Linked DNA regions of Homo sapiens. The protein of the gene in region 4 purifies or fractionates together with the protein of the main gene of each other region. This does not show direct contact. Each region holds a gene or a part of one and is shown on either strand. Other genes may lie near its edges.

What was found.
Region 1: the proteins of SIN3B (region 4) and KDM5A purify together in Homo sapiens (affinity purification with mass spectrometry; 4 studies listed by BioGRID and IntAct, with this or other methods). This does not show direct contact.
Region 2: the proteins of SIN3B (region 4) and SAP130 purify together in Homo sapiens (affinity purification with mass spectrometry; 3 studies listed by BioGRID and IntAct, with this or other methods). This does not show direct contact.
Region 3: the proteins of SIN3B (region 4) and GATAD1 purify together in Homo sapiens (affinity purification with mass spectrometry; 5 studies listed by BioGRID and IntAct, with this or other methods). This does not show direct contact.

The regions. Positions count from the first base shown.
Region 1 is NC_000012.12:378,412-386,977, forward strand, and holds part of KDM5A (lysine-specific demethylase 5A), read right to left. Parts: intron 7,564-8,566; coding exon 7,486-7,563; intron 5,743-7,485; coding exon 5,620-5,742; intron 1-5,619. UniProt on the Homo sapiens protein: Histone demethylase that specifically demethylates 'Lys-4' of histone H3, thereby playing a central role in histone code. Does not demethylate histone H3 'Lys-9', H3 'Lys-27', H3 'Lys-36', H3 'Lys-79' or H4 'Lys-20'.
Region 2 is NC_000002.12:128,010,260-128,018,825, forward strand, and holds part of SAP130 (histone deacetylase complex subunit SAP130), read right to left. Parts: intron 7,657-8,566; coding exon 7,421-7,656; intron 6,289-7,420; coding exon 6,130-6,288; intron 4,656-6,129; coding exon 4,544-4,655; intron 2,896-4,543; coding exon 2,771-2,895; intron 135-2,770; coding exon 10-134; intron 1-9. UniProt on the Homo sapiens protein: Acts as a transcriptional repressor. May function in the assembly and/or enzymatic activity of the mSin3A corepressor complex or in mediating interactions between the complex and other regulatory complexes.
Region 3 is NC_000007.14:92,457,482-92,462,141, reverse strand, and holds the end of GATAD1 (GATA zinc finger domain-containing protein 1), read right to left. Parts: 3' UTR 2,067-4,660; downstream 1-2,066. UniProt on the Homo sapiens protein: Component of some chromatin complex recruited to chromatin sites methylated 'Lys-4' of histone H3 (H3K4me), with a preference for trimethylated form (H3K4me3).
Region 4 is NC_000019.10:16,831,918-16,840,483, reverse strand, and holds part of SIN3B (paired amphipathic helix protein Sin3b), read right to left. Parts: intron 1-8,566.

The DNA.
Region 1 (8,566 bases), on a different chromosome or scaffold from region 4:
CACACCTAGCTAATCTTTTTAAATTTTTTGTAGAGACGGGGTCTCCCTATGTCTAGACCAGGAAGTTTATCTAGAACTCCTGGGCTCAAATGATCCTCCTGCCTCGGCCTCCCAAACTGCTGGGATTACAAGTATGAGCCCACTATACCCAGCCAAAGCCTTGTGTTTTAAAAGTGTACTACTTTAATAAAAATAAAAATGTTTTAACAAGAAGGGCTAGACTGAATGCTTCTTGCTGAAGTGGTTATAAAAACTGTAATTATTCAGCCAGGCACGGTGGCTCACGCCTGTAATCCCAGCACTTTGGGAGGCCAAGGCGGGCGGATCACGAGGTCAGGAGATTGAGACCATCCTGGCTAACAGGGTGAAACCCCGTCTCTACTAAAAAATACAAAAAATTAGCCGGGCGTGGTGGTGGGCGCCTGTAGTCCCAGCTACGCGGGAGGCTGAGGCGGGAGAATGTCATGAACCCAGGAGGCGGAGCTTAGAGTGAGCCAAAATCGTGCTGCTGCACTCCAGCCTGGGTGACAGAGTGAGACTCCATCTCAAAAAAAAAAAAAAAAAACTAATTATTCATATAGAAGTCTATTAAATTACAGGCATTCCAAGTAATACTTTTTATTATCAAAAATAATAGGGAGAAAGATGAAGTGATTTAATCAAAACAGGAAACCATCATGCTGATGACTTAATGACTCAGAAGACTGAAAATTTGCTTCCCATCAAAAAGCAATGGGAATCATAGTATTTTCAAATCATATATAAAAAAAAAACTTAATAGATGCCAACAAACTGTCAGCCAAAAATAATCTTTTTTTTAAAAAAGGGCACACCTAACCTTAAAACATCTCAACTCTCAGTATTTTCTGCAGTTTTCAGCCCAAGCCTCTTGCTAGAATAAAATGTCATGTTAATGAAATAAATAGTCACCCAATGATAAAGGTCAGAATAAATTACCTTTGTGAAGAAGTATTGACTGGAAAGGAGATGAAACAACCCACTAGAGTGCTATAAAAATGTTATATATCTTGATCTGCGTGATGGCTACAAAACAGGTGTACACATATGAAAATTTATTGAACTGTACGCTTGAAATTTGTGCATTACACTGTAAGTTACACCTCAATGTAAAAGAAAAAAGTTAACGTGAGAAGCAGCAATCTCACAATGACATTTAGGGAACAAAGTATTATAAACTAAAATAACTACAAATCAAAGTTTGTCTGCCTTTTAGCTTTAAATCTCAGTTTTGCAAACATTCTCACAGGTTGGGGAAAGAGATGTCCATGAGGACTTAAAAAAACCCACAAAGACAAGATTCCAATAAACCGTCAGATAAGCACACTTAACCTTTAATCATAACATATTTTCAATAAGTTTTCTGAATATTTAAACAAAGTGTACTTTATTAGTAGTATGAACCTTAAAAGGAAATCAGCTTCTCAAGATGGAGTTAAACACTCTGGATGACCGTTATAAGGAGAATTGTGAACAACTAAGTATTCAGACTAGGTTACCTCTAAAAGCCCCTTCCCTATTTTGAAATCCTATGACTTTAGAAAACCAGAAAAGTGCAGCCGGGCACGGTGGCTTGCACCTGTAATCCCACCATTTTGGGAGGCCAAGATGGGAGATCACTTGAGATCAGGAGTTCGTGACTAGCTTGGCCAACATGACGAAACCCCGTCTCTACTAAAAATACAAACATTAGCCAGGCGTGGTGGTGTGCGCCTGTAGTCCCAGCTGCTTCTGAGGCTGAGTGAGGGGAATCGCTTGAACCCAGGAGGTGGGAGGTTGCAGTGAGCCGAGATCACGCCTCTAGCCTGGGTGATGGGGGAGACTCCGTCTCCAAAAAAAAAAAAAAAATGCAATTTAACTTACCATCAGATTAAACCTAAGGTTTACCTTTTAAATGGAAAATCACTGACAGAGAAAGTTTCAATAGATTACTACTCATACTATTAATACTTACTCTAGCAAATTCCTTAGGGTATTTATGAAAATAAAATAGAGATAAAGATTGGCCGGGCACAGTGGCTCACACCTGTAATCCCTACACTTTGGGAGGCCAAGGTGGGCAGATCATTTCAGGTCAGGAGTTCAAGGCCAGCCTGGCCAACATGGTAAAAACCCCATCTTTACTAAAAATATAAAAATTAGCTGGGTGTGGTGGCACACACCTTTAATCCCAGTCCCAGCTACTCAGAAGGCTGAGGCATGAGAATCGGTTGAACCTGGGAGATGGAGGTAGCAGTGAGCCAAGATTGTGCCACTGCACTCCAGTCTGGGCAAAAGAGTGAGACTCTGTCTAAAAAAAAAAAGTAGAAAGAGCTTCATTAAAGAGTACTACAACATATTGCTATTAATGATAAAATAATTTTTGAAAAAAAAATTTTTTTTTCAGACACAGTTTCACTCTTGTTGCCCAGGCTGGAGTGCAGTGGTACTATCTCAACTCACTGCAACCTCTGCCTCCCGGTTTCAAGTGATTTCCTACCTCAGCCTCCTGAGCAGATGGAATTACAGGTGCCCACCACCACACCTGGCTAATTTTTTGCATAATTAGTAGAGATAGGTTTTATTTTATTTTTTTTTTTTAGACGGAGTTGTGCCGCTCTTATTGCCCAGGCTGAAGTGCAATGGCGTGATCTCAGCTCACCACAACCTCCACCTCCCGGGTTCAAGCAATTCTCCTGCCTCGGCCTCCCAAGTAGCTGAGATTACAGGCATGTGCCACCACGTCCGGCTAATTTTGTATTTTTAGTAGAGACGAGGTTTCTCCATGTTGGTTGGGTTGGTCTCGAACTCCCGACCTCAAGTGATCCTCCTGCCTCAGCCTCCCAAAGTGCTGGGATTACAGGCATGAGCCACCGTGCCCGGCTGAGACAGGTTTTCATCATGTTGGCCAGGCTGGTCTCAAAAACTCCTGACCTCAGGTGATCCATCCGCCTCAGCCTTCCAAAGTGCTGGGATTACAGGCATGAGCCACAGTGCCGAGCCAATTTTTGAAATTTTTTTTGTATTTTATTCATACTACAGTCAAACACATTCAGAATCTTAAACAGCATCATACAGCAAAACTTAGTAGGTAAGTTTTGATTGAATAAAAATTTCAAAAAAGCATTCTTAAGATGAATTTTTATCCTAATAGTTCCCTATAAGAAGAAACCCACCACCCAAATTTAGCATAATTTGTTCTTTAGTACCATAGGTTTTCATATAACTATACTAGACAATTCTTGACACAGTGCTTACTTACTAACATCATTACCTGACTGATTAAAAAAAGTCTCAAGCTGTATTTTAGCGTAAGACCGTACTTCCCAAATTTTTTAGTAAGAGAATTTTGACCTGACACTAATTTTAAAATGTATCATAAAAGATAATTTAAATATGGTTACTCTGTTTTTTTGGAAACAGGGTCTTGCTCTGTCACTCAAGCTGGAATGCAGTGGTGTGATGACAGCTCACCGCAGTCTTGACCTCCTGGGCTCAAGCAATCCTCCTGCCTCAGCCTCTTGATTAGCTGGGACTCCAGGAGTCCACCACCATGCCAGGATTATTTATTTTTTAATTTTTTGTAGAGATGGAGTCTCACTATGTTGCCTAGCCTGGTCTCGAACTCCTAGGTTCAAGCAATCCTTCCACCTCAGCCTCCCAAAGTGCTGGGATTATAGGTATGAGCCACCACATGCCACGAATTATTCTCATGTTTTTCCTTACAAGTGAAATCTTCCTGGCCACGCATGGTGGCTCACGCCTGTAATCCCAACACTCTGGGAGGCTGAGGCGGGTGGATCATCTGAGGTCAGGAGTTCGAGTCCAGCCTAACCAACATGGAGAAACCCTGTCTCTACTAACAATACAAAATTAGCCAGGTGTGGTGGCAGGCACCTGTAATCCCAGGTATTTGGGAGGCCAAGGCAGGAGAATCACTTGAACCCGGGAGGCTGAGGCAGAAGAATCACTTGAACCCGGGAGGTGGAGGCTGCAGTGAGCCGAGATGGCACCACTGCACTCCAGCCTGGGCAACAAGGGCGTGACTCCATTTCAAAAAAAAAAAAAAGTGAAATCTTCTAAAAGTAACTGCAATTTAAATAAGAATAAATTTTTATTTCAAAATAGTATATAAATTATAAGATATGAAAGGCCACAAGAAGAAGTTGTTTTACAAAATTCCCAGATAATTAAGCAATAATAAATTTGTATTATTGTAGTAACAAAACATATTTTAGCCGGGCGCGGTGGCTCACGCCTGTAATCTATAATCCCAGCACTTTGGGAGATCAAGGTGAGCGGATCACGAGGTCAGAAGTTCGAGACCAGCCTGACTAAGATAGTGAAACCCCATCTCTACTAAAAAATACAAAATTAGCCTGGTGTGTTGGCACATGCCTGTAATCCCAGCTACTCGGGAGGCTGAGGAAGGAGAATTGCTTGACCCTGGGAGGCAGAGGTTGCAGTGAGCCAAGATCAGGCCATTGCACTCCAGCCTGGACACAAGAGCAAAACTCCATCTCAAAAAAAAGAGAAAAAAACATATCTCAAGGTTATTATAATCTCAGCTTGCAGGTCAGTTAGTTTTTTTTTTTCACATTAGGGAATATAATGTTAAAAAATTAACACAATTTCAGCAAAAACTTGTCTAAACTCTTCACCCTTAAGTTTCTGAGCTGTTTGGTCATCCTACTGAATAATGATGGCCTCAGTCAGCCATTAACACTACATACACGTATTAACAAAACTAATATATACCACACATAAGAATGCTGAGAAACATGAGTTTCTTTAATATGCCAAATTTTCTCTTTTTTTTTTTTGAGACAGGGTCTAACTCCTGTGGCCAAGGCTGAGGTGCAGTGGCGCAATCACAGCTCACTGCAGCCTTGACTTTCCGGACTCATGTGATCCTCCCACCTTAGCCTCCTGAGTGGTTGAGACTACAGGTGTGCACCACCATGCCCAGTTAGCTTTTCTGTATTTTTAGTAGACATAGGGTTTCACCATGTTGCCTGGGCTAGTCTCTAACTCCTAGGCTCAAGTGATCCTCCCACCTCAACCTCCTAAAGTGCTGGGATTACAGGCATGAGCCACCGTGCCTGGCCCAAATTTTCAATTAAGTAACAAAAAAAAAGATGACAAGCTCAACACAGAACATTGTACACTCAGCACAAGATAACATTAGCAGGCTAGAGTAATTTATTTTGCATATTGTATATCACAGAGCCTGATAAATATTAATATTTAGTAATTAAATATTGATCTCAACAAATATAAAATAAGTTTTAAAGATAACTTTGAGAACTGTCATTTCCATTTATTCAAATGTGCATTTCATTGTCCTTTTTTTTTTTGAGACCGAGTTTTGCTCTTGTTGCCCAGGCTGTAGTACAATGGCGCGATCTCAGCTCACCACAACCTCCGCCTCCTGGGTTCAAGCAATTCTCCTGCCTCAACCTCCCGAGTAGCTGGGATTACAGGCATGCGCCACCATACCCAGCTAGTGCATTTCATTGTCAAACAAATCCTCTATTGGAAGCAATGTTTCCTACCAAATCTATTTGATATTCCTAAATTCACAAGCCTGTGCTCTAATTTCTAAACCAGTATGAGCCTCACCTTGCTCAAAGCATACAGATCCAGGATTTTTCTCTCTACCACAGGGATCTTCAGAGTAGATCCTTGAAGTTCCCAAAATTTTGCTAGTTGATCCAAGAAATCCAATCTCACTCTGGTCATTGCCTAAGATTATTAAAATACAGAAGAACTAAGTTATGATTGAAATGAATAAGAATAACAGAGCAGGGGTCCCCAAACCCCAGGATGTGGACCAGTACCCATCAGCGGCCTGTTAGGAACCCAGCCACACAGCAGGAGGTGAGCAGCGGCAGTGGGCAACCAACCGGGCAAGCATTACCACAAACCCTATTGTGAACTGCGTGTGAGGGATTTAGGTTGTGAGCACCTTTTGAGAATCTAAGTAATGCTTGATGATCTGAGGTGGAACAGTTTCATCCCAAAACCATCCTCCATACCCCCATCCATCCATGGATAAACTGTCTTCCATGAAACCAGTCCTTGGTGCCAAAAAGGTTTGGGACAGCTGTAATAGAGGTACTCATTTCTCTAAAGAAATTCAAAGACTTTTTTTCATTATTGCTTATTTCAACCCTGTAAAACTAGCCAATAGTAAAACTAGCCAATAATAAAGAGGCAAAAGACTTCTAATAAACTATATTTATTCAGGCAAAAAAGTTACTCTGATTTATGTAAAAAGTTGTCATATTAGCAACCAAAACAATTTTTGTAAGTTGGTTTAACTCTATGCTGATCAGAAAATTCAGTAGATCGGATTCTCTTCAGTCTCTAACGTTCTGTCATTTCATCCATATGTAACATGCACACTTTAGGTGCATCAACTCTATACCTCACTGATACTAATATGCTTTGTCAAGTATCTAATTACAAGAGACTAAAAAGAAAAAATATGCATTGCGGCCAGGCGCGGTAGCTCACGCCTGTAATCCCAGCACTTTGGGAGGCCAAGGCGGGCAGATCACCTGAGGTCAGGAGTTCCAGACCAGCCTGGCCAACACGGCAAAACTCCGTCTCTACTAAAAATACAAAAATTAGCTGGGCATGGTCGCTGTAATCCCAGCCACTAGGGAGGCTAAGGCAGGAGAATCGCTTGAACCCGGGAGGTAGAGGTTGCAGTGAGCCGAGATCGCACCACTGCACTCCAGCCTGGGTGACAGAGCAAGACTCTCTGGAAAAAAAAAAAAAAAAAAAGTATGTATTAAACTCTCAGAAATGTTTTGGGGAGAAAAGAAAAAAAACTTCAGAATGACATAATAAACCTTTGCTATCAATAATTTTCCTTCTGTACTCTAAAAGTTTTCATATCACAATGAAGAACCTTCTGAAAACCCATAAACAGAAAAAACAGCAAAACGTACACTTCCATTTAGAAAATTTAAGATAAATTAGTAATACTTAAAGTAATTAAAAAATAATACTTAAAGTAATTAAAAAGTAATACTTAAAATCTTAATAAATCAGATTAACACTCCTGGCAAAGTTCCATTAAAACCAAAACCAAAACCAAACCAAAACAAAACAAACTCTGAAAACTAGGGTTTTAAAATAGGATTTAAAAATCCATTTTCCAAGAACCGAGGGAGAAAGAAATCTTCCAAGATTAACAAAAATTTTAGTAGAGTAAGAAACACTAGAGAAAGTAGAATTTAAGAATTCTAAGTCTCTGAAGCTAAGCATTGAACATTTCTCAGTTAAATGGAAAAACCATAACAACTTTGCACAGTTTTTAAAAAATCATACTCTTCCTCCAAACATCAAGTAACTATTCCATTCAATACCAATTAACACAAACTCTAGGCTGTGGTACATGAGCTTCTCAAAGTTCTCTACCTACAGCCCTAATATAAAGAATGAATCAGGAAGCAGAAATAGTGACAAAACACTTACCTCAAGTTCATTCAGGCGCTGGACTCTTGGAGTGAAACGAAAGCTTTTTACTTCACAGGCAAATGGAGGCTGCCAGTCCTAAATAGAAAGATTTTTTTAAAAAAACACAGTGGTATGTAAACAAGGAATGCATTAATTATTCCCTTAAAGGGGGGTTTTGCCACAAATCATGGTGCTAATAGACTAACTTACAAGTCTTCTTTATTATAGAGACAGAATGAGCAATTCTTTTCGATAAAATAATTTTAATACAGGTTGAGTATCCCTCATCTGAAATGCTTGGAACCAGAAGTGTTTTGGATTTCAGATTTTTCCATATTTTGGAATATCTGCATATACATAATGAGATATCTTGGAGAAAGAACCAAGCCTAAATACAAAATTCTTTTGTTTCATATAAAGTTATACATAGGCTAAGGTAATTTTATGCAATATTTTTAATAATCTGGTGCATAACGCTTGTGTATACTGGACCGTCAGAAAAGAAAGGTGTCAGTAGCTCAGCCACCAGTGTGGACAATTTGTGGTTGTCTGGCATCACCATCATTCCTGACTGTGAATTTACATGCTACCAATAAACAATCATTTCCTTACACTTATTTCCACTTAAGTAGTTAACAGAAAAAATATACCATACCATTAATACAATGAAAAAAATAATCTGTTCAAGCTGGGTGCAGTAGCTCATACCTGTAATCCCAGCACATTGGGAGACTGAGGCAGGAGGATCGCTTGAGCCCAGGAGCTTAAGACCAGCCCAGGCAACAGAGCGAGACCCTATCTCTATAAAAGAAAAAGAAAAAGAATAATTCAGATTTTGGATGATTTCGGATTTGGAATTTTTAAAGTAGGGATGGATGCTCAACCTGTATTGCTCAGAGAAGCAATCCTCTTCAAACCAGTCCCACCGTTTACCTCCCACAATTATGCTTTCCCAAGTTACTCAAGTGGAATTCAATGAGGTCATGTACCACAAAACAGTATCTAGTAAACATTCAGGTTTACCAAGATCAAAAAAAAAAAACTTGTGTTTAAACTAAAAAGGGTAAAATTTAAGATTAAAAAGAAACTTTTAAGAACT
Region 2 (8,566 bases), on a different chromosome or scaffold from region 4:
CATGTATACCTAAGTGCTGAATCAGTAGCATGCGCCGCTGTCGTAGTGATGACTGGAGACTGAGCTCTGGTGGCTGAGACAGTTGCTACCACAGCAGGAGGGATGGCATTGGAGGTGGTCACAGGTGGCCGAGACTACCAAAAGAGAAAAAACAGTTCATTTAAAACAAAAATAAAATAGAGGAAGTCAAATACTAAATGTGTAATTTGAAACTTGAGCCTACAGATAAGCATGTTTCTGCCCAAGTAAAAATAAATTCTCACCATTCCAATTAAGGAATTCTCTTTTCAGATAGGTTGTTATAAGACCAAGAGCCAGGCCGGGCACGGTGGCTCACGCCTGTAATTCCCAGCACTTTGGGAGGCTGAGGTGGGCAGATCAACTGAGATCAGGAGTTAAAAGACCAGCCTGGCTAACACAGTAAAACCCTGTCTTGACTAAAAATACAAAAAAAATTAGCCGGGTGTGGTGGCACGCGCCTGTAATCCCAGCTACTCAGGAGGTTGAGGCAGGAGAATCGCTTGAACCTGGGAGGCAGAGGTTGCAGTGAGCCAAGACCGCACCATTGCGCTCCAGCTTGAGCAACAAGAGAGAAACTGTCTTGAAAAAATAGAAAAGAAAAAAAAAAAAGACTAAGAGTCAGAATTATTAAAAAAAAAAAATCCCTTAAGATACCACTGACAAGTGTTTTGAAAAAAAAAAAAAAATCCCATTTTGATTGAACAGTACATGAGTCCCTCCTGTACAAATGTGATTGGAGTCAAAATTCTGCCCTACTATTGGTACCAATGGGATCTCACCCTTCAATCTAGAGTTGCCACAGGTCTGTTGTTGGTCCTGGTGTAGACATTTTACGCTGCCATCCAACCCAGCACCTCCACAGAGGGCCTACTCAGCTGCTGAATAGAGCTGTTGGCTCTCAGGCCATCTACGTTAGTGAGTACAAGGGCAACTCAAGGTAACAGTATTCTTTTCTAGGTAATCGTTCAGGGTGCCCATATCCTTTCTGGATGTTTTCACATGGACAGAGTGCCCTTATCACACTTACGTGTGAAATCTTCCTCTAAAAAATAAGCTCCACACTGGGCTTCATCCACATACCCACCATTATTCTTCGAATCACCTGAGTTCTGATTCTTCCCTTGCTCTTAACCCTGAAACATGCATCTAAATGGCCGAGCTCTGCCCATTCCTCATCCTTGCTTTTCATCTACAGCCCTTTTACCTGCCGCTTCTACCATGTGCAGGTGCGTGTCTCACACTAGGGCTACAGCACCAGCTTCCTCACTCGGGAGCTCCTTGTCTTGGTTCTCGTCTTCCTCCAACCCTTCATATGTATCACATATACTACTAGAGGCCTAATACTCCTCCGACTCTGTTTTCTTGGCCAGAAAAGTATTTATCTTGAAAGCTGTAGGCTAGACAGATACTACCCAGTATCATAATCAAGACTTCCTTATTATCTTAAACCCAGTTGTTTCATACATCTGTCTGTCCCCTGAAAGTGCTTAAGGGGACAGACCTCCTGTATGTGATTCAGCTAGATTAATCTTATCTTTCTTATTTTTTGTGAGATGGAGTCTCACTCTCTCGTCCCAGCTAGAGTGCAGTGGCACGATCTTGGCTCACTGCAACCTCTGCCTCTCGGACTCAAGTGATTCTCCCACCTCAGCCTCCCAGGTAGCTGGGATTACAGGCACGCACCACCATGCCCAGCTAATTTTTTGGCATTTTAGTAGAGACAGGGTTTCACCATGTTGCCCAAGGCGGTTTCAAACTCCTGATCTCAGACAATCCGCCCGCCTTGGCCTCCCAAAATGCTGGGAATTACAGGTGTGAGCCACTGCGCCTGGCCTAATCTCATCTTTCAACAGTATTACTTTAATGATACACAGAGCCATTGTGTTAAAAAGACAAAAATGATTTTTGGCCGGGCACAGTAGCTCACGCCTGTAATCCTAGCACTTCAGGAGGCCGAGGCAGGCAGATCACTTGAGGTCAGGAGTTCGAGACCAGCCTGGCCAACAGGGTGAAATCCTGTCTCTACTAAAAGTATAAAAATTAGCCGGGCATGGTGGTGCACACCTGTAGTCCCAAGTACTTGGAAGGCTGAGGCAGGAGAATCGCTTGAACCCAGGAAGCAGAGGTTGCAGTGAGCTGGGATCGCACCACTGCACTTCAGCCTGGGCAACAGAGTGAGACTGTCTCAAAAAACAAAAACAAATAAACAAAAAAACGCAGTGGCTCTCTACTGTATATAAAGTCTAGTTTATACTCCATATCCTAGAGAACCCAATTTATAGATACTATATTTCCTGCAAATATATTATACTTCAGTAATAATGAGGTCATAGATTTCCTTAAGAAAAAGCTGAATGGCATGGACCATGTTCTTGGAATATACATAGATATACACCTAACTTTTAGGAGTCCACAGATCCCCCCAATCCAAATTAAAATCCCTCAATCCTAGCTAGCCTTTACTAACTGCTGTCTACAACCATCACTCCCTTCCTTGCCACTGTTCATTTCCCCCTTCACTTCCTCTTCACTTCTCTGATTCCTCGTTAGCACAGCCTTTCCAACAGGAAGGCTTCCCACCATCTCTCCTCTGCATTCTTACAGCTTGCCACATGACACTGTGCATCTTTCAAACTTCCCTATGTCTTGGCAACTAGATGGAAAGTCCCTGAGGTCAAGGATGTGCCTAGTGCCTGGCAGAATGAATAACTCCAATGAGGCCCTTAATGCACCCCAGGCTCCGACGTGCCTGGATTGGTTGGTGAATGATGTGCTGTACTGCTGGCTGAGCAGTAGCAGCATTTGGCAGCTGTGAGGTCGGCCTCAGGACTGTGGTTACTTTAGAACTGGACATCACAGCAGCAGCAGCTGCACCTGAAAAAAAAAAAGTGTTTATTATATTTATTCTAGTTATATTCCCTGGGAAAATAATCAGTATGTTTCCCAAAACTCAGATAGCATGTCAATATCGAGCTGAAGTATGGTATGTATACTTCCCATTTCATCACAGAGAAAACAAAGAAAATGTGTATTCAAGAGATTTAATAATAATTTATATTGCCTCTTCACAGACAACCTTAAGTGAAACTAGCTGCTGTTTTTTGTTTCTGTTAACTGCAAGTGTGCACAGTGGTAAAGCACACAGGGAACAGCAGTGTGATGCCACTGCCTCAGCTCTGACGAGGCTCGGACACTTTGCCTTCCAGTCTTTGTTCCATTAGAGCAGACGTCGACATTGCCAAAGGGACACATTATGAACCTTAACCTTAAACCTAACCCTGCACTTTTCACCCTGCAGACCCCCATAAGGGCCTGTGAACCACATTTGGAGAACTGCTGAGTTATGCTATAACCAAGCAAACCTGGTCTTGCGTTTGCTAACTTGATTTTGCCAACAATCTCCAATTGTTGTAAAGTCTCCAATAAAAGGTAAAAATTTCTAGTCAAAATTCATTTATTACCTCACAACCTATTAGAACTTAAGGGTAAAAATAAATTAATCTTAGCCATGTGGTGGCTCACACCTGTAGTCCCAGCCACTCAGGAGGCTAAAGTGGGAAGATCGCTTGTGCCCCAGAAATCTGAAACCAGCCTGGGTAACCCAGTGAGGCCCCATCTCAAAAAATAATTATCATCATCATTTTATTGTTACATAAGTTAAAAAACTGAGTAAAGATCATCACTGAACTTTAAAAATATTCAGTATTAATATTTGTGACTTATGTATTAAAAATAAAGACCATGTTGCAGATAAGCAGTCTAATAATAAAGACCATGTTGAGATTATCAAAGCTTGGGCAGTTCCTCAATATATAGGACAATTTTAGACCATATTAAACACTTTAATTGCATAAATATACACACTTGTAATACAACTATAATAAGCACATATTAAACCATGCTAAAAACATGGATTGCTCTAAGTTTATTTCTACTGTCTTGCGATTTTTTTTCTTTTTCTTGAGACAGGTTCTCGCTCTGTCACCCAGGCTGGAGTGCAGCGGCGCAATCTCAACTCATTTCAACCTCTGCCTCCCGAGCTCAAGCCATCCTCCCATCTCAGCCTCCTGAGTGCCATCCTCCCATCTCAGCCTCCTGAGTGCCATCCTCCTATCTCAGCCTCCTGAGTGCCATCCTCCCATCTCAGCCTCCTGAGTGCCATCCTCCCATCTCAGCCTCCTGAGTAGATGGGACTACAGACGCATGCCACCACACCTGGCTAATTTTTTGTATTTTTGTAGAGACAGGGTTTCGCCATGTTGCCCAGGCTGGTCTCAAATTCCTGGACTCAAGTGAACCTACCACCTCAGCCTCCCAAAGTGTTGGGTTTATAGACATGAACCGCAGCACCTGGCCTTTTTTTCTTTTTAAATAAAAGAGGTTTATTTGGTTCACGGTTCTGCAGACTGTTGTTCTGCAACTTTAACAAGCTGATTCTAGATACATTCTGTGTTACGTATTTTACCAAATGTATATCTACTACTACATTTTGAGAGTTTGAACAAAACTTGCAAGTCGTTACCTCGAGGTAAATGAGAAGCTCCAATGTGAAGAGGGGGCCCAGGAGCATTGCTGCGGATGATAGACATTTGCACATTTGTAGTCATGATGTGATGCAGGTTACTGGGATGGCCCTGAAAGAAAGAGGATAGAACGTTATTTTTACATGTTTGCTCTTAGCCATTGCCTCTAGGAAGTCACCTGCCTCCAAATGTGGGTCAGGTTGTTTTTTAGATAGTGAGTATCCCAAGAGAAAGGGCTAAGGACATTCAGCTTGAGCTACTTTTACATGCCATACCGTACAATGAACTGTGCTAACAGGCATGTGAGAAGTATGAGGACCCCACAACTGCTGCAGGCCCACATAATTACAGATAATATACTTCGATATCTACGTTTAGAAACTCTCATCTGCGATATTACCTTTCACACTTGTTTTCCCTGTTCTGGCCAAATGCTTATTTTTTTTCCCATTCTCACTATTTCCTTTACATACCACTGCATCCATCCATTCTTTAAGCTTTTTTGTTTCTAAGTAAATGTCAGTTGGTATCCAACAGGTGCTCCCTACCAGTTCTTCAGCTCAACCCTGAAATGTCCCTTACATTCTCCCAAACCACAGAGTTCAGGGCTTCTCAGCTAAGGGTTCTGGTACTTCTGAGAGTACTCAGCAGTATGACAAAAGGAAAAAACACAGTACACCTCTTTGGGATATAAATTTTTCTTGAAAATGTGAAGGGAAAGTTTTTAGATTTAGTTTTTTTCCCCAGGTAAAAAATGTAAAATATTTAATTAATCAGGTACACAGCAGAGTAGGATTGCAAAATTTCACAAAAAAACCTTAAAACAGAAGACTTCAGAATAAATGTTCGCAACTAAGGCTGGGTGCGGTGGCTCATGCCTGTAATCCCAGCACTTTGGGAGGCCGAGGCGGGCAGATCATTTGAGGTCAGGAGTTGGAGACCAGCCTGGCCAACATGGTGAAACCCCGTCTCTATTAAAATAAAAAAATTAGCTGGGGGTGGTGGTGCCCGCTTGTAATCCTAGCTACTCGGGAGGCTGAGGCAAGAGAATGGCTCGAACACGGGACGTGGACGTTGCTGTGAGCCAAGACTGCACCACTACACTCCAGCTTGGGTGACACCGTGAGATTCTGTCTCAAAAAAAAAAAAAAAAAAGTTTGGAACTAGAGAGCTGCTTGAGGTAACCTATCCCAAGAGATGCACATCTGCTCTCCTCAGAGAAACCACAGAGCAGCACTGCCTACCCCCGGAAGGCAGTTCTTGACGCTAAAACCAAACACGAACCGGACTCCGGACTCCTCAAGGACACGGACTGTTTTATCTAGATTTATATATCACACTAGGGTCGAATCGAGCATCTAGTAGCTGCTCAATAAATTCTAGCTAAATGACCACTATGGACACTGGCTTCTACTCCCTTTACAGTTATCCTTCTCTCTCAAACCTACTATCTTCACTTGCAGGTATCAGTGACTGTTTGATCTTTTTTTATTACCGTGACTAATGTACTGCTAGCATTCAATAAATCATGATCAACAGTTTGGCATTTCAGTTTGAAAATCAGCAAATTAAAAGGAAGAAAAACCTGTTGTCCACTGATTGTTGCCACAGGAATGGCTGAAGCTTGAGGGATGCTACTCTCCATGGTAACGGTAACCTGCCCTGGAACCTTGGGGGGAAGTGACAGGGTAGAAGGTGGAGCAGGAGCAATGGGACGGCTAGGCATGGTGGGCTTCGGGGGCGGCTGCAAACAGAAAACCACACAAAACATATCAATGGCCTCATACTGGTGATGCATTTCAATCCACAATTAAGAGTGCACAAATCGAACCTGGAAAGTGCCAGGAAAGATGCCGTAAGCTTTATACATTTTATCTATTATCATCACAGTGTTTCCACTGAAGTACTAGCATTTCTATTTCACAGATAAAGAAACATACAAAGCAAGGCTAACTGACTTGCTCAAAGCCACACACACAGTAAGAAGTAGAACTGGGAATAAAGCCCAGAGCTGTATGGCTCACAGCCCACACCCTTTCTTCTACATGATGCTGCCTCCCAAGTTTGGGTGGATTGAACAAAACTCCCAGTAACTGAAACACAACCCCAAGGTAATACACAGGCAATATTCTCAGAAACCCCCAAATTAACCAGTTATTAAAACAAACCTTAAAGAAGAGTGCCACTCCACTTGGTCCCATGGTACTGGGTTATCTGAACTTATAACATTACTGTCAGCTGGGCACAGTGGCTCACGCCTGTAATCCCAGCAATCTGGGAAGCTAAGGCGGGCAGACCACTTGAGGCCAGGAGTTTGAGACCAGCCTGGCCGACATGGTGAAACGCCATCTCTACTAAAAATACAAAAATTAGCCAGGCGTAGTGACGTGCGCCTGTAATACCAGCTACTTGGGAGGCTGAGGCTGCAGAACCGCTTGAACCTTGGAGGTGGAAGTTGCAGTGAGCCAAGATCGCACCACTGCACTCCAGCCTGGATGACAGAGAAAGACTCCGTCTCAAATAAAAACAGAAACAAAACATTAATGTCATTAAGCCCCCACTGCTAAATCTGACTGGCTTAAAAAAAAAAGAGGGTCCCTTCAAGATTGTATCTAACTTAACATGCCCATAAGTTGAATAATATCAGTATCAAAATGGATAACAGCAAAGATCCTATGATGCCAACTGCCCAGCAGCACAAGACAAGGCACTGCAGAAAATCAGGGCTGAGTTACAGAAAGGAGCTGAACTCATATGTCATAAAGAAAAAATGAAATGTGATCCTAAGATACAGCCTAAGATTTTATACAAATTGTTACAAACATTAGCCAGTCTCGAGCTCTGGTTCAGTGTGAAGTTTTAACCCTCTCCATTACCTTCATAAGTCCCTCCGAAAATGAAAGTGGCACTGCTGGCGTCAGGTGTGCTGGCGGGGCTGTCACTGCAACAGGTGTGGCTGATGCGACAGCATGGTGTGTCGACAACATCTGCACCTGTGGATAGGGCCTTACCACAACAGGCTCTTGCTTCTCCTCCCGGGACTGGAGGGAGCTGCTGGAACTCATGTGCTCCCTGGCACTGACTTCAGAATCTCGACCAGATTCATCATTGACTAGTAAAGACATTAAGAGTGAGACAGTATGTCACAGTCTCCCAGTGTAAGATAGCAGCACAGACAAGAGTGGTACCTGAAGTTAAATCTCAGGATTGACAAAGTGGCCATTTCCTTGTGATGTTTTCTTAACAAGGTCAATATGGGCACTGGATTCTCCTGATGGACATCAGACAAAAGAGCCACAACTGTGGAATATAGAATTTATTCTGGATATTGTAGCCTTATGAACAAACTACCTGAAAATCATCTAAAATGAGCTGAAATAGTTAAAAGTACAATACAGGATGTAAGACAATTTCATTTAAAACATCCTCTTAGAAAGTTATAAAAGCCTGACATTAAAAAGATATTTTATGCTGGCCAACATGGCAAAACCCTATCTCTACTAAAAATACAAAAAAAAAAAAAAAAAACAAACCAAAAACCAAAAACCACGTTTTTTTGTAATCCCAGCTACTTGGGAGGCTAAGGTGGGAGGATCACCTGAGCCCAAAAGGCAGAGGTTGCAGTGAGCCAAGATTCCGTCACTGCACTCTAGCCTGGGCGAGAGAGGAAGATTGTCTCCAAAAAAAAAAAAAAAAAAAAAAAGGATGGCTGGTGCAGTGGCTTGCACCTGCAATCCTAGCATTTTGAGAGGCCAAGGCAAACAGATCCCTTGAACCCAGGAGTTCAAGACCAGCCTTGGCAACACAGTAAGACTCCATCTCTGCAAAAAATTTTAAAATTAAATGGGCATGGTGGCATGCACCCGTAATCCCAGCTATATTGGAGGCAGAGGGAGGAGGATCACTTAACCCTGGGAGGTCAAGGCTGCAGTGAGCCAAGCCATGATTGTGCCACTGCACTCCAGCTTGGATGACACAGTGAGACTTTGTCTCAAAAAAAAAAAAAAAAGGTGGTTGGGGGC
Region 3 (4,660 bases), on a different chromosome or scaffold from region 4:
GTCCACATTTTAAATCCTCTTAGCATGGATTCTTAGAAATGAAATTACTGGATCAAGAAGTACTTTTAATACTTTTAAGATTATAGATACATATTGCTATTCTAAAAAGCTATGTTAATTTACATTGGCCACCAGCTGGATAGGGTGTCCCTCTGTGCCTCTGAGGTGGTCCCTAGTGGTCTCTGCCCTTGGAATTCACGCCCTTGTGTGGTCCTGTGTTCACACTGTACCAGAGTTGGTCTGTGTGACCCAACAGCATATGGCAGAAGTGCTGGTATGTCCCTTCTTTCAGATTAGGTTATAGAAAAGATGGTGGCTTCCATCTTGGGTGCAACTGCCCTTGCGTCTTTCTGTCACGGACCATTTGCTGTGAGCAAACCTGTGGAGGCCCACAGAGAGGAATGGAAGCTTCCTGCCAACAGCCACATGAGGGAGCTGTTTCTCCCATTTTATTCTTTGCTTTTCAATTTAGTATATAAACTTTAAAAATAATCCAATCTATCTTTCCCTATGTGATCTCTTTCATTACTTTTTGATTTAAAAAATGTATCAAAGCACTACATATTCATAGCAAAAAGATGGCCAAATAATTCTAAACAGTTTATAATGAGAAACAGTAGTTCCTTGCCTTCTCTTTCAGAGTCTCAGCAACTGTTATCAGCCAGAATTCGATCAGAGAAACAGAACCACTAGGAGCGATATAGAAAAGGAATCTATAAAGGAAACTTTACCTTACACAATTGTTGGAGCTTGCTGAACACTCTGTGTAAGGCTGTTGCTTCTGTGTTTGGTGTTGGGGCCTTAAGTCAGCAGCGCAGGCAGTCTGGAAGGGAAGACAGATTTCAAGTGGAGGACAGGAAAGAAAAACTTGAACCTACATCAGTCTCTTACCCTCGCCAAACCTCCAATTCAGATGATACAGGCACCCTGCAGAAGAAGCTGGTGACCTTTACCACAGAGCTAAGCATGCGCCTGGCCCAGGAGTGGCTGAAGCTGAAGGAAGTCACTCCCAAGTTCTTTCCTAGAATCATGATGTGAATATAGGAAAATAATGAAATCACTGACTTTATTTTCTCAGCTGGTCATTCACTCCCTTTCAAGGGTTTAAGAACTACTATTTATAAAATATTCTAGATATGTATAGACTAAAAGCCAGCGGTTGTTCACCACCAGTTGGGCACTTATGCAAACAAACGTGTGTGTGTGTGTGTGCTTATTGTAAAAAATTTGGAAAATACTGCTTGTTAGAGAAAATTTGGAAAATACTGCGAAGTATAAAGCTGAAAAAAGTAGCTGCAGAAAACCTCTGTTGACATGTTAAAATTCTGGAGGAATTTCCGTCTTTTTTTTTTTTTTTTTTTTTTTGAGAGAAGGTCTCACTTCTATCACCCAGGCTGGAGTGGTGGCACAATCATGGGTCACTGCAGCTCAAGTGATCCTCCACCTCAGCCTCTTAAAGTGCTGGGATTACAGGCATGAGCTACTGTGCCTGGGCTCCTTCCATCTTTTATAAAAGATGCTTCTTGTTTGCAGAATTGCTATCATACAGTTCTACATTCTGCTTTTTTCTCTTATTTATTGTGAACCTTTCCGCTACTACGAGCAATCTTCCTTGTGGGTCACCATTAAGAGGTGCTTAAATAAATTACTGTGCATTTATGCATCTGACCCAATAATTAATGGCCCACCTCTTGTGGGTCATTTGGGTTCCTTCTCTTGGCACAGACCTTCTCCTGGCTTATATTTCTTGGGTGTAGGAGGTATACCCTCCTACCAAAGGTATGGCTCACACACCTGGTATGAAGTAAACAGCACAGTTCTTCAAACATCCCCAGGGCAGCCAGACAAAATCCACAAAAATGCCTCTCCCTTTTCTGGGCATGACAGAAACTTCATTCTAAGCGTGTGCAATGTTTATATGTAGACACAACACACATGCATGTGTATAAAGCAAATAAATACATTTCCCTCTATTGTTCATTTGATTTCACCTACTTACGGCTGAAGTGGAAAACTTATTAGGCCTGGAAAAGCCTTTCACAGCCAGGAACTGGAATGGTTTGGGATAATTTCCTTCAAATACTCATATTAAGCTTTATTTGTGTTAAGAGAACTATTTAAAACTCATCTTAAAAACATCTTGTTTAAAACAATCTTAAAAACAATCTAATACTAACCCAGAATGTAACAATCTAAATTTTACTTGACTATTCACAATAGAATTTAAAAGTTTCAGCCAAAGTTAATATGAATTAATAACTAAAATATCAACAAGCATTTTAGTTAACAGTATCTAACTCAGACCCTACAATCAGCATCTCCCATAAGCAAGAACCGGGGTTAGGTTATGTGGAAGTTACAAAGATGAGTAAATAAAACACAGCATCCCTGTCATCCCAGGACCAAAGGGATAGGAGTGAGGATGATGGAAGTAGAAACTTAAATGTGATGACAATAGGATAGAGATTGATTCCAAAAAGGCATGGGAATCTGGAAAGTTCTCAAAGAAAGAATCCGAAGGTGTTAAGAAAGGCCTTTGGAAGGTAGAATTGGAGAGAACAGTATGAACAAGGACTCAGAGCCAGAAAAATTGGGCGGGCATACAGGGGAAAGATTTTAGTGGTAATGAGGAAACAAGGCTGGGAACACAGACCAGGGCCATATCAGGTCCGGCCTCAGCAGGAGAAATATAAGCAATGGGAACCATCACACTGGGTGAAATTCAATCTTTATTTTAAAAGATGGTACACAACCATCTGCCAATTTATAAACAGATGATCAATTTATAGATTTTTAAAAGTCTACATTTTAATAAATGTTTTACATTGTGTTCATTTTATTAGCCATTTTTTGATTTTCCTAAAATCTGTTACTTATTAATGATGAATCTACTCCAAAATCTTTTTTTTTTTTTTTTGGAGATGGAGTCATGCCGTCACCCAGACTGGAGTGCAGTGGCGCGATCTCGGCTCACTGCAGTCTCTGCCTCCTGAGTTCCAGCGATTCTCCTGCCTCAGCCTCCCGAGTAGACTAGCTGGGATTATAGGCGCACGCCACCACGCCCAGCTAATTTTTGTATTTTTAGTAGAGACGGGGTTTCATGTTGACCAGGCTGGTCTCGAACTCCTGACCTCAGGTGATCCGCCTGCCTCAGCCTTCCAAAGTGCTGGGATTACAGGCGTGAGCCACTGTGCCCGGCCTCTACTCCAAATTCTAAGTACGATACTGTTTTGGTTTTAAATACCATTTTTGGTTAAAGAGCCCCATTTAAATTGTTTAAATGAAATAAATACATCCAAAGTAAATGCACGGTGAAAAATACATTTTAATCCAAAAGTTTTGAATATTGGCACTTAGAAAGTTATTTACAATCAATTTTACTATACCCTTTGTGAATAAAGAGATAATTATGTACGTGTAGCTACCTATAGTTGTTTCTTTCCAACTCAAACACCATAACTATGTGGAAAAAGGGTAAGAGTTAAAGCTGCTGCAGCTCAAAATCATTACAATCAACTTAGATTCTGCAAATTTTCCCAGGGTTGAAAAATGCTGGTTAAATCAGGACAAAAGAGGAGGCAAGTGAGTACACCCCACTCCTCTCCCATTTTACGTGTTGCTCCCTTACTTAACCGGCAAAGACCTGCACCTGAATTCTAGACAATTTCATATACAACAGGCCTCTTATTATGGGTCCATAGCAGATGGTTTAGGGTAGATGTTTTAAAGATATCAATGCTAATGGCCTACCAATGACTTTCATGACCTCCCAATATTCGTTTTAATGGTAGTCAAGAGACTATCAAGCAGGAAGCCTGATCTCGACATGTTTCCTCTGCGGCTTTGGTGAAGCTGACTATCTGCAGTATAAAATCTTATGGTTTGATCGAAGTCTCATTTTTGACTAGAAACAGTAAAGAGCAGCTTTATTAAGATCAATGGAATGGTTCTGAATGCCTGTTTCTACAGAAGGATTAAATTAAAATTTTTTCTTTTTTTTCTTTTTTGAGACAGTCTTGCTCTATCACCCAGGCTGGAGTGCAGTGGCACGATCTCGGCTTACTGCAATCTCCACCTCCCGAGTTCAAGCAATTCTCCTGCCTCAGCCTCCCGAGTAGCTGGGATTACAGGCATGCACCATAACACCCAACTAATTTTTGTATATTTAGTAGAGACAGGGTTTCATCATGTTGGCCAGGCTGGTCCTGAACTCCTGACCTCAAGTGATCCATCCACTCAGGCCTCCCAAAGTGCCGGGATTACAGGCATGAGCCACCGCACGTGGCCTAGATGAAAGTTTTTAAAAGCCTGGGCTAATAAAATCATCCACCAATCATTTTTCTTATGGTTAAAGCAGCCAAAAAGCTGTCACAGCATTTTTGAGATGAGAACATAAGGCTTGTGTGGCTTTATGATAGATGCTGTTAGTCATTTTATTTGATTAAGCCCTTGGTCAGTCATCTATACCTTAATTAATATTTTGTTCTTATAGAAAAATACAATCCATTTTATGAGTTTCTAGAAATAAATAATGGAGAAAAATAGATACTACCTGTTCCTAATGGTCTCTCTGGAAATTACAGCTTTTGCCTAGGAAGATACACATATAGAATATAATTTAAGTTCAAAATATATTTCATTATATTCTATCCCTTTTAAT
Region 4 (8,566 bases):
ACAACAGAAGTTAGTAGTTCTCAGTTCTGGAGGCCTGGAGGCCAGGAGGCCAAGGTCAAGGTGCCAGGAGGTTTGGTTTTCTCTAAGGACTCTCTCCTTGGCTTGTGGGTGGCCACTGTCTGTGTCCTCATGTGGTCTTCTCTCTGTGCACGCATGTCCCTGATGTGTGTCCCAATCTCCTCTCTTATAAGGACACCAATCAGACTGGATTAGGGCCTACCCTAACGGCCTCAGTTAAATCACCTCTTCAAAGGCTCCATCTCCAAATACAGTCACGTTCTGAGGCGCTGGGGCTAGGGCTAAAATACATGAATTTGGGGTGGAATGTGGGGTGGGGGGATGACACAATTCTGCCCAGAACAATGGGTACAGAGACAATTCTAGAAAGTCTCAGCTGAGAAAAGCAGAAATACAAGACGCAGAGCAGCCACGATTCTAAAACAATTTCTCCTTGGTGGCGGGATTTGTTCTTTTTGTTTTGAGATGGAGTCTTGCTCTGTCTCCCAGGCTGGAGTGCAGTGGTATGATCCCGGCTCACTGCAACCTTTGCCTCCCGGGTTCAAGTGATTCTCCTGAGTAGCTGGGATCACAGGTGCCGTGCGACCACGCTGGCTAATTTTTCTATTTTTAGTAGAGATGGGGTTTCACCATATTGGCCAGGCTGGTCTCGCTTGACCTCAAGTGATCTGCCCACCTTGGCCTCCCAAAGTGCTGAGATTACAGGCGTAAACCACTGCGCCCAGTCAGTGGCGGGGTTTGTTGTAAGATTCTCTGGGGATGTCCGGAATGATTCTCTGCTCAGGCTCACAGGGGGCTGCGTCTGTTTCTCCATGGTGCACAGGTTTGATGGCAGAAGGGGTCGGAACGAGCAGGGTGTGGGTATGTAGGGAAGCAGCATGGAGCCAAGGTCTGTTTCAGAGGCAGCTGTAGGCTCACTGCGAGCCCCCCACCATTCCAAGGAGGCATTTCCAAGCTCCGCATGCACCCTCTGATCCCCTAAAGTGTGCCACTGCGACAAAATGGGGAACCACGCTCTAGACCAGGGCTTGGCAAAAAGAGCCAGATGGGACGGTACAGCCACCACGAGGGACAGTGTGGCAGTTACCTCAACAGGTTGACCATGGAATTATTGCTACCATATGACCTGGTAATCCCACTCCCAGGTCTATAACCAAGAGAACTGAAAAAAGGTGCTCAGGCCAGGGACAGTGGCTCAGGCCAGGCGCAGTGGCTCACACCTGTAATTCTAGCACTTTGGGAGGTTGAGGTGGACAGATCCCTTGAAGTCAGGAGTTTGAGACGAGCCTGGCCAACATTGCAAAACCCCGTCTCCACTAAAAATACAAAAATTAGCCAGGTGTGGTGGTGTGCACCTATAGACCCAGCTACTTGGGAGGCTGAGGAGGAAGAATTGCTTGAACCCAGGGGGTTGTGGTGAGCCGACAATGCACCACCGCACTCCAGCCTGGGAAACAAAAGCAAAACCCCATCTCAAAAAAAAAAAAAAAAAAAAGCCAGGCGCGGTGGCTGGAACCTGTAATCCCAGCACTTTGGGAGGCCAAGGATGGCGGATCACGAGGTCAGGAGTTCAAGACTAGCCTGGCCAACATGGTGAAACCCTATCTCTACTAAAAATGCAAAAAAATTAGCCAGGCGTGGTGGTGGGAACTTGTAATCCCGGCTACTTGGAAGGCTGAAGCAGGAGAATTGCTTGAACCTGAGAAGCAGAAGTTTTAGTGAGCTGAGACCCCGCCACTGCACTCCAGCCTGGGCGACAGAGCGAGACTCTGTCTCGAAAAAAAAAGAAAAAGAAAACACGTGTTCCAACACATCCTCACACATGAATGTTCGTTGCAGCACTATGCACAACAGCCAAAAGGTGGAAACAGGCCAAACATCCATCAACAGAAGAGTGGGCATGCGAAATGTGGTCCTGCCATACAGTGGAGAATGATTCAGTCTTAAGGAAGGAAGCACTGATACCGGCTCCGATGTGAATGACCCCGGAAAACACGATGCTGAGTGAGAAGCCAGACACCAACAGCCACACGGTGTATGACCCCACTGATATGAAATGTCCATACGGGCAAATCCATAAAGACAGGAAGCAGACTCATGGTTGCCAGGGGCTTGGGGAGAGGAGAATTAGGAGGTTCAGGGTTTGATCCTGGGGTGATGTTAATGTTCTGGAATTAGTGGTGATGGTTGTACAGTATTGTGAATATACTAACACTTTAAAATGATGATGATTTTATGTTATGTGAACAGTATCACAATATGAAACATTTTTAAAAATTTAATCCTTTGAAAATGTAAAAATCACAACCAATCACACCGAGCCAGGCTGGCTTTGGTCTCCAAGCTACCATTTGCCGACTGTGCTGCTCTAAACCACCCAGCACAAGCCCAGTTTTCTTTTTCTTCCGGCACCTCCTCTCTCCCCGTGCCCTGGGTGGCCTCATCAGGCAGAGTTCGAACTGCCTCCCACACCATGACAACCATCCTGCGTGGCCGACACGTCCATCTGAGCATCCACACACAGCCCCGCCTGGGTACTGATTAACAGAGCCTCAAATGGCAGGCACCGCACAGACACATAGCAGCCCCCCAACTGCCCTGGCCTTATGCACCTCAGCAGGGGCCCACACTTTTACCCAGAGAATCAGGCATCCTGAGATCAGCCCAGACTTCTCACTCTCACTGACACCCCCGCTCCTGATCTACATCATCATCCACTCTGCCCCCATCACATGGGAACCCCCTCTGGTCCTTGTCACCAGTCACTCTGTCCCCATCACTCAGGGCACTTCTCTGGTCCTTATCACTGTCCACTCCGTCCCCATCACTCGGGGGATCCCTCTCCAGTCCTTGTTACCATCCACTCTGTCCTCATCACTGTCTACTCAGTCCCCATCACTTGGGGACTGTCTCTGGTCCTTGTCACCATCCACTCTGTCGCCATTGCTGTCCACCTCTGTCCCCATCACTCGGGAGGCCTTCCCTACTCCTTGTTACCATCCATTCTGTCCTCATCACTTGGGAATTGTCTCTGGTCCTTGTCACCATCCTCTCTGTTCCCATCACTTGGGACCCTCTCTGGTCCTTGTCACCATCCACTCTGTTTCCATCACTGTCTACCCCGCCTCCATCACTTGGGGCCCCTCCCTGGTCTCCCAGGGGCCTCCTGACCCCTCATTCTCAGCACAGCAGCAGAACCGCCTCCCAGAACCATCCAGTGGTTCTCACGCTCCTGGCTCCCTCTCCCCCTTCTCTCCTTCAGCTCCTGACCCTGCCGTTCTCCTTGGCTGTTCCTCAAGCACACCCACTCACTCTCACCTCAGGCCATCACTCCCCACCAGGAACAGTCCCTCATGAAACAGGTCCTGCCCACAGCAACCTCCTCCCACCCTTCCCTGGCCTGCTCCATCCTCTCTCTGCCCTCTCCCATGCGCCACCCGCATCTGCCCATCTGTTTCTCATCGGACCCCCCACCTTGACTGTGCAGGAACCCTGAAAGCAGGGCCTCTGAATAAACCCCAGGGCCTGGCTCGGAGAAGGGGTCACCGCCTGCTCCATGAGCCAAGAAGATACAAACACAAGAATCGACTTGTTGACAACTAGCGGGACTTCCCCCAGAGAACAGCCAGGGGGCTCCCTTTGAATGTCGAGGGGCTGCTTAAGTTAGGAGCTGCACGTTAAGGGGTTATCTCTGTCTCTGTCCAAGCCAGCTGTCATCTTCCACGAGGCAGGGTCTGCCCTGAAGAGGACCCGCTAGCTGAGAGCGGCCATGTTCCCACCAGCATCCAGTTTCTCATTCCTGCACCATGCACTGCTCCCTGGCGACGTTCCAGAAGGTGGATACAGTCATGAACAAGACAGTGCAGGGCCCACCTCATCTTAAGGACTCACCGTCAACCAAGGAAGGAAAACCAATAAGAAACAATGCATTCTGAACTTCTTTTCCTAGCCGTTTTGAAATACATAACCCAGGGTGGTGTAAGAATGACACAGGGTAGGGACTAGGGGGCTCTCTGTGGAGCTGACATTACAACCAAGGCCTGAATTACCAGACAGTAAATGATGCTGACTCAGGAGGCCAAGGCAAGGCTCCAGTAAGAAGCTGTTCCTTCCTCCAAATTCCCCAGGTCGTCACTGGCCACACACCACGGCCTGTGTCTGTCTTCCCCTTTAGACTCGTGTTCTCAACCTGAGCAACTCTGCCACCCAGGGGACACTCGGCAACACGGGAGACACTTTAGGTTATCACATCTAGAAGCATCTGGTGGGTGGAGGCCAGGGAGGCTGCTCAAATACCCTTCAGTGTGCAGGACGGCACCTCGCCATAAAGAACAGTCTGGCCCCCAAAGCTGAAGACACCCTGCGCCAAAGGCTGCCCGAGGCTGGGACTCTCTTATTCACCTTCCTTACCACCTATGGGCCACTCCCTACTTGTCAGTAGCTGGCAGGCTTTGTGATAAAATTGGGGGGGGAAAAAGATACTTCAAAACAGTCAAACTAGAAAAACTAAGCAACAGAGAATACTGGCCAGGCGTGGTGGGTCACACCTGTAATCCCAAAACTTTGGGAGGCCAAGGCAGGAGGATCACTTGAGTCCAGCCTGGACAACATGGTGAAACCCTGTCTCTGTTTTAAAAATGTAAAAAAGGCCAGGCACAGTGGCTAACGCCTGTAATCTCAACACTTTGGGAGGCTGAGGTGGGGGATCACTTGAGGTCAGGGGTTCGAGACCAGCCTGGCCAACATGGTGAAAACCTGTCTCTACTAAAAATACAAAAATTAGCTGGGTGTGGTGGCACATGCCTGTAATAGCAGCTACTTGGGAGGCTGAGGCAGGAGAATGACTTGAACCTCAGAGGCGGAGGCTGCAGTGAGCTGAGATCACGCCATTGTACTCTAGCCTGGGTGACAGTGAAATGGTGTCTCAAAATTAAAAAATAATTCAATTAAAGTAAAAAAAAAAAAAAAAAGAACTTTGGGAGGCCGAGGTGGGCAGATCATGAGGTCAGGGGATTTCGAAACCAGCCTGACCAACATGGTGAAATCCCATCTCTACTAAAAATACAAAAATTAGCTGATAGTGGTGGCAGGCACCTGTAATCCCAGCTACTCAGGAGGCTGAGGCAGGAGAATCACTTGAACCCGGGAGGCAGAGGATGCAGCGAGCCAAGATCGTGCCATTGCACTCCAGCCTGGGCAACACAGCGAGACTCTGTCTCAAAAAAAAAAAAAAAAAAGATGGCCAGGTGCAGTGGCTCATGCCTGTAATCCCAGTACTTTGGGAGGCCGAGGCAGGCAGATCACGTGAGGTCGGGAGTTCAAGACCAGCCTGACCAATATGGAGAAACCCCGTCTCTACTAAAAATACAAAATTAGTCGGGCGCGCTGGTGCATGCCTGTAATCCCAGTTACTCAGGAGGCTGAGGGAGGAGAATCGCTTGAACTGGGGAGGCAGAGGATGCGGTGAGTCGAGATTGTGTCATTGCACTCCAGCGTGGGTAAAGAGCGAAACTCTGAAACTCTGTCACAAAAAAAAAAAAAAAGAAAGAAAAGAAAGAAAGAAAGAATATCACCAGGGCCTCTGTGTGTGGGAAACCCTGTGAGGCTTTCAGACGATGGCCTCTCAAAGGACTCCAGGGAGCCGAAAGCTCAAAGGACTCCTGAAGCCACGCGAGTCATGGCCTGGACCTGGGATATCTCTCATGTTTCTGTCCTGAAGCCACACAAACAACAGCCCAGACTGCTGGGAAACAGGGCTGGAAACCTGACAGCACCTGTGTCAATATCAACTGGAAGCCAGTGGGCTCCCAGGGGCCCCCGAAGAGAACAAACTTCTACACCTAAGCCTGGAAATGACTGTTCCCAGGCTGCAGCACGATGACCAAGGCCCTGCTGAGTAGCTACTAAGTGAAAGTTCTTTTCAAGCCTTTCCCCAAGTCGATGGGTCTGCACCGTCATCATTGTCACCTAAGCCACCTACGGGGAGACAAGACTGCCAGCCCTCCACGGTTGGGGACCCGCAGCTACTTAAAGGAAGAGCCAACTCCAAATACAACCAGTGTGGCGCCTGTCAAGATCTAGCCCTGAAAGCCGAGTTACTCCACGGGCAGGGACTCTGCTGAAAGGCAATTTCCACATGCAGGACGCACAGTTCACATCTTTTCACTCTGGCTCTTTCTGAGTGAGTGACAGGAACGAGACCCAGAGTTTCCACAGCATTCAGGCTCTGCAAAGTGCTCTGGTGGACGCTGCTATTGCAAATGAGCTTGGCTTTCTCCCGCAGTCGTGACTGTTCTGGAGATCAGTCTTGCTAAGGCTTTCATGGTCTAAGACACAAGCAGTACATCTGGATCCTGGGGCTTCATTTGCAAACAGGAAATGGAAGGCTCTTCAGAGTTCAGTGGCCACACGCTTCCAAGTTCCCCTTTAAAGCTGAGATTCAGCTGGGTGCGGTGGCTCACACCTGTAATCCCAGCACTTTGGGAGGCAGAGGTGGGCGAATCACGGGGTCAGGAGTTCGAGACCAGCCTGACCAACATGGCGAAACCCCCATCTCCACTAAAAATACAAAAAAATTAGCCGGGCATGATGAAGCGTGCCTGTAATCCCAGCTACTCAGCACGCTGAGGCAGGAGAATCTCTTGAACCCAGGAGGTGGAGGTTGCAGGGAGCCGAGATTGCGCCACTGAACTCCAGCCTGGGTGACAGAGCGAGACTCCTTCTCAAAAAAGGCAAAAAAAAAACCCTGAGACTCGCTCCTTGGCTTTCAGGAGACAACAGGCTGATGGCAGAGAGGGTCTTGCACAGAGAAGCAGCAGAATTTTTTTTTTTTTTGAGACGGAGTCTTGCTCTGTCACCCAGGCTACAGTGCAGTGGCACAATCTCTGCTCACTGCAACCTCCGCCTCCCAGGTTCAAGCAATTCTCATGCCTCAGCCTCCCAAGTAGCTGGGATTACAGGCATGCTCCACTGCGCCTGGCTGATTTTTGTACTTTTAGTAGAGACAGGGTTTCACCATGATGGCCAGGCTGGTCTTGAACTCCTGACCTTGTAATCTACCCATCTCGGCCCCCCAAAGTGCTGGGATTACAGGCGTGAGCCACTGCGCCTGGCCGAGAAGCAGCAGAATTGACACACACCTTGCACATGGAATTAATACAAAAGCACTGCCACATTACCCTTCGCTGTTCTCTTTCCAACTGACTGCGGAGTGTCAGATCCCTAATTGATTGGACGCTCTATCATCTCTTCCATCAAAGAAGACCTACCAAGTGCTTCCAGCAGTAGATTCTGACACTCCCTGCTAAAACTCTCGAGGCAAGGACTGGAGGAGGTTGGGAGAGCTGGTCCACTTACACCGGTGGTTCTCAACAGGGGCACTTTTGCCCCCCAGGGAGACACCTGGCAATGTCTGGAGACATTTCTGGCTGTCAGAACTGAGTGAAGGTCTGGTAGGTACACGCTACAGATCCTGCTAAACACCCCACAATGCACTGGGAAGCCCCCAACAGCAAAGAATTATGCCTTAAATGGGAAATAGTGTTGAGGTGGAAAAAATGACAATGGTCATCTTATAAAAGGAAATCTTAAGTAGGCTTTCTTTTTCTCAGAGGCGCTAGTAAGCTCAAGCATGAAGAGACTGCAGAGATAGAAGGGGCAGTGAGCCAGGCACAGTGGCTCACTCCTGTAATCCCAGCACTGTGGGAGGCCAAGGTGGGCACATCGCTTGAGGCCAGGAGATCGAGACCAACCCTGGGCAACATAGTGAGACCCTGTCGCTACAAAAAAAATAAATAAATTAGCTGGCCGTGGTGGTGCACGCCTGTAGTCCTAGCTACTTAGGAGGCTGAGACGGGAGGATCACTTGAGCCCAGGAGGTTGAGGCTGCAGTGAGATATGATGGCACCACTGCACTCCAGCCTGGGCAACAGAGTGAGAACCTGTCTTAAAAAAAAAAAAAAAAAAGGAGGCTGGGCACGGTGGCTCACGCCTGTAATCCTAGCACTTTGGGAAGCTGAAGCAGGCAGATCACTTGAGGTCAGGAGCTCAAGAACAGCCTGGCCAACATGAAGAAACCCCATCTCTACTAAAAATACAAAAATTAGCTAAGCATGGTGGTGCACACCTGTAATCCCAGCTACTCGGGAGGCTGAGGCAGGAGAATTGCTTGAACCTGGGAGGCGGAGGTTGCACTGAGCTGAGATTGCGCCACTGCACTCCAGCCTGGGTGACAGAGCCAGACTCCGTCTCCAAAAAAAAAAAAAAAAAAAAAAAGAGGGCCAGCACCTATCACCCAAGAAAAAAGGGACCAAAGCAAAGCCAGGAGTCCCAGCTGAGCTAATGATCCTATCAACAATTAAATGAAACACAGCCAACATAAACGTGGCTACTCACACACCATCTCGACCACTTTATTTTGTAGGTGGTACTGAGAGTGATCAGAGGCAGACGAGGACATGCTTAAATACAAGGGCAAGCCTGCCTGGTATGCTCGCTGGGAAAGCCTCAAGCCAAGACCTCAGCAACTGCTGAGGTGGTTATTTAGACT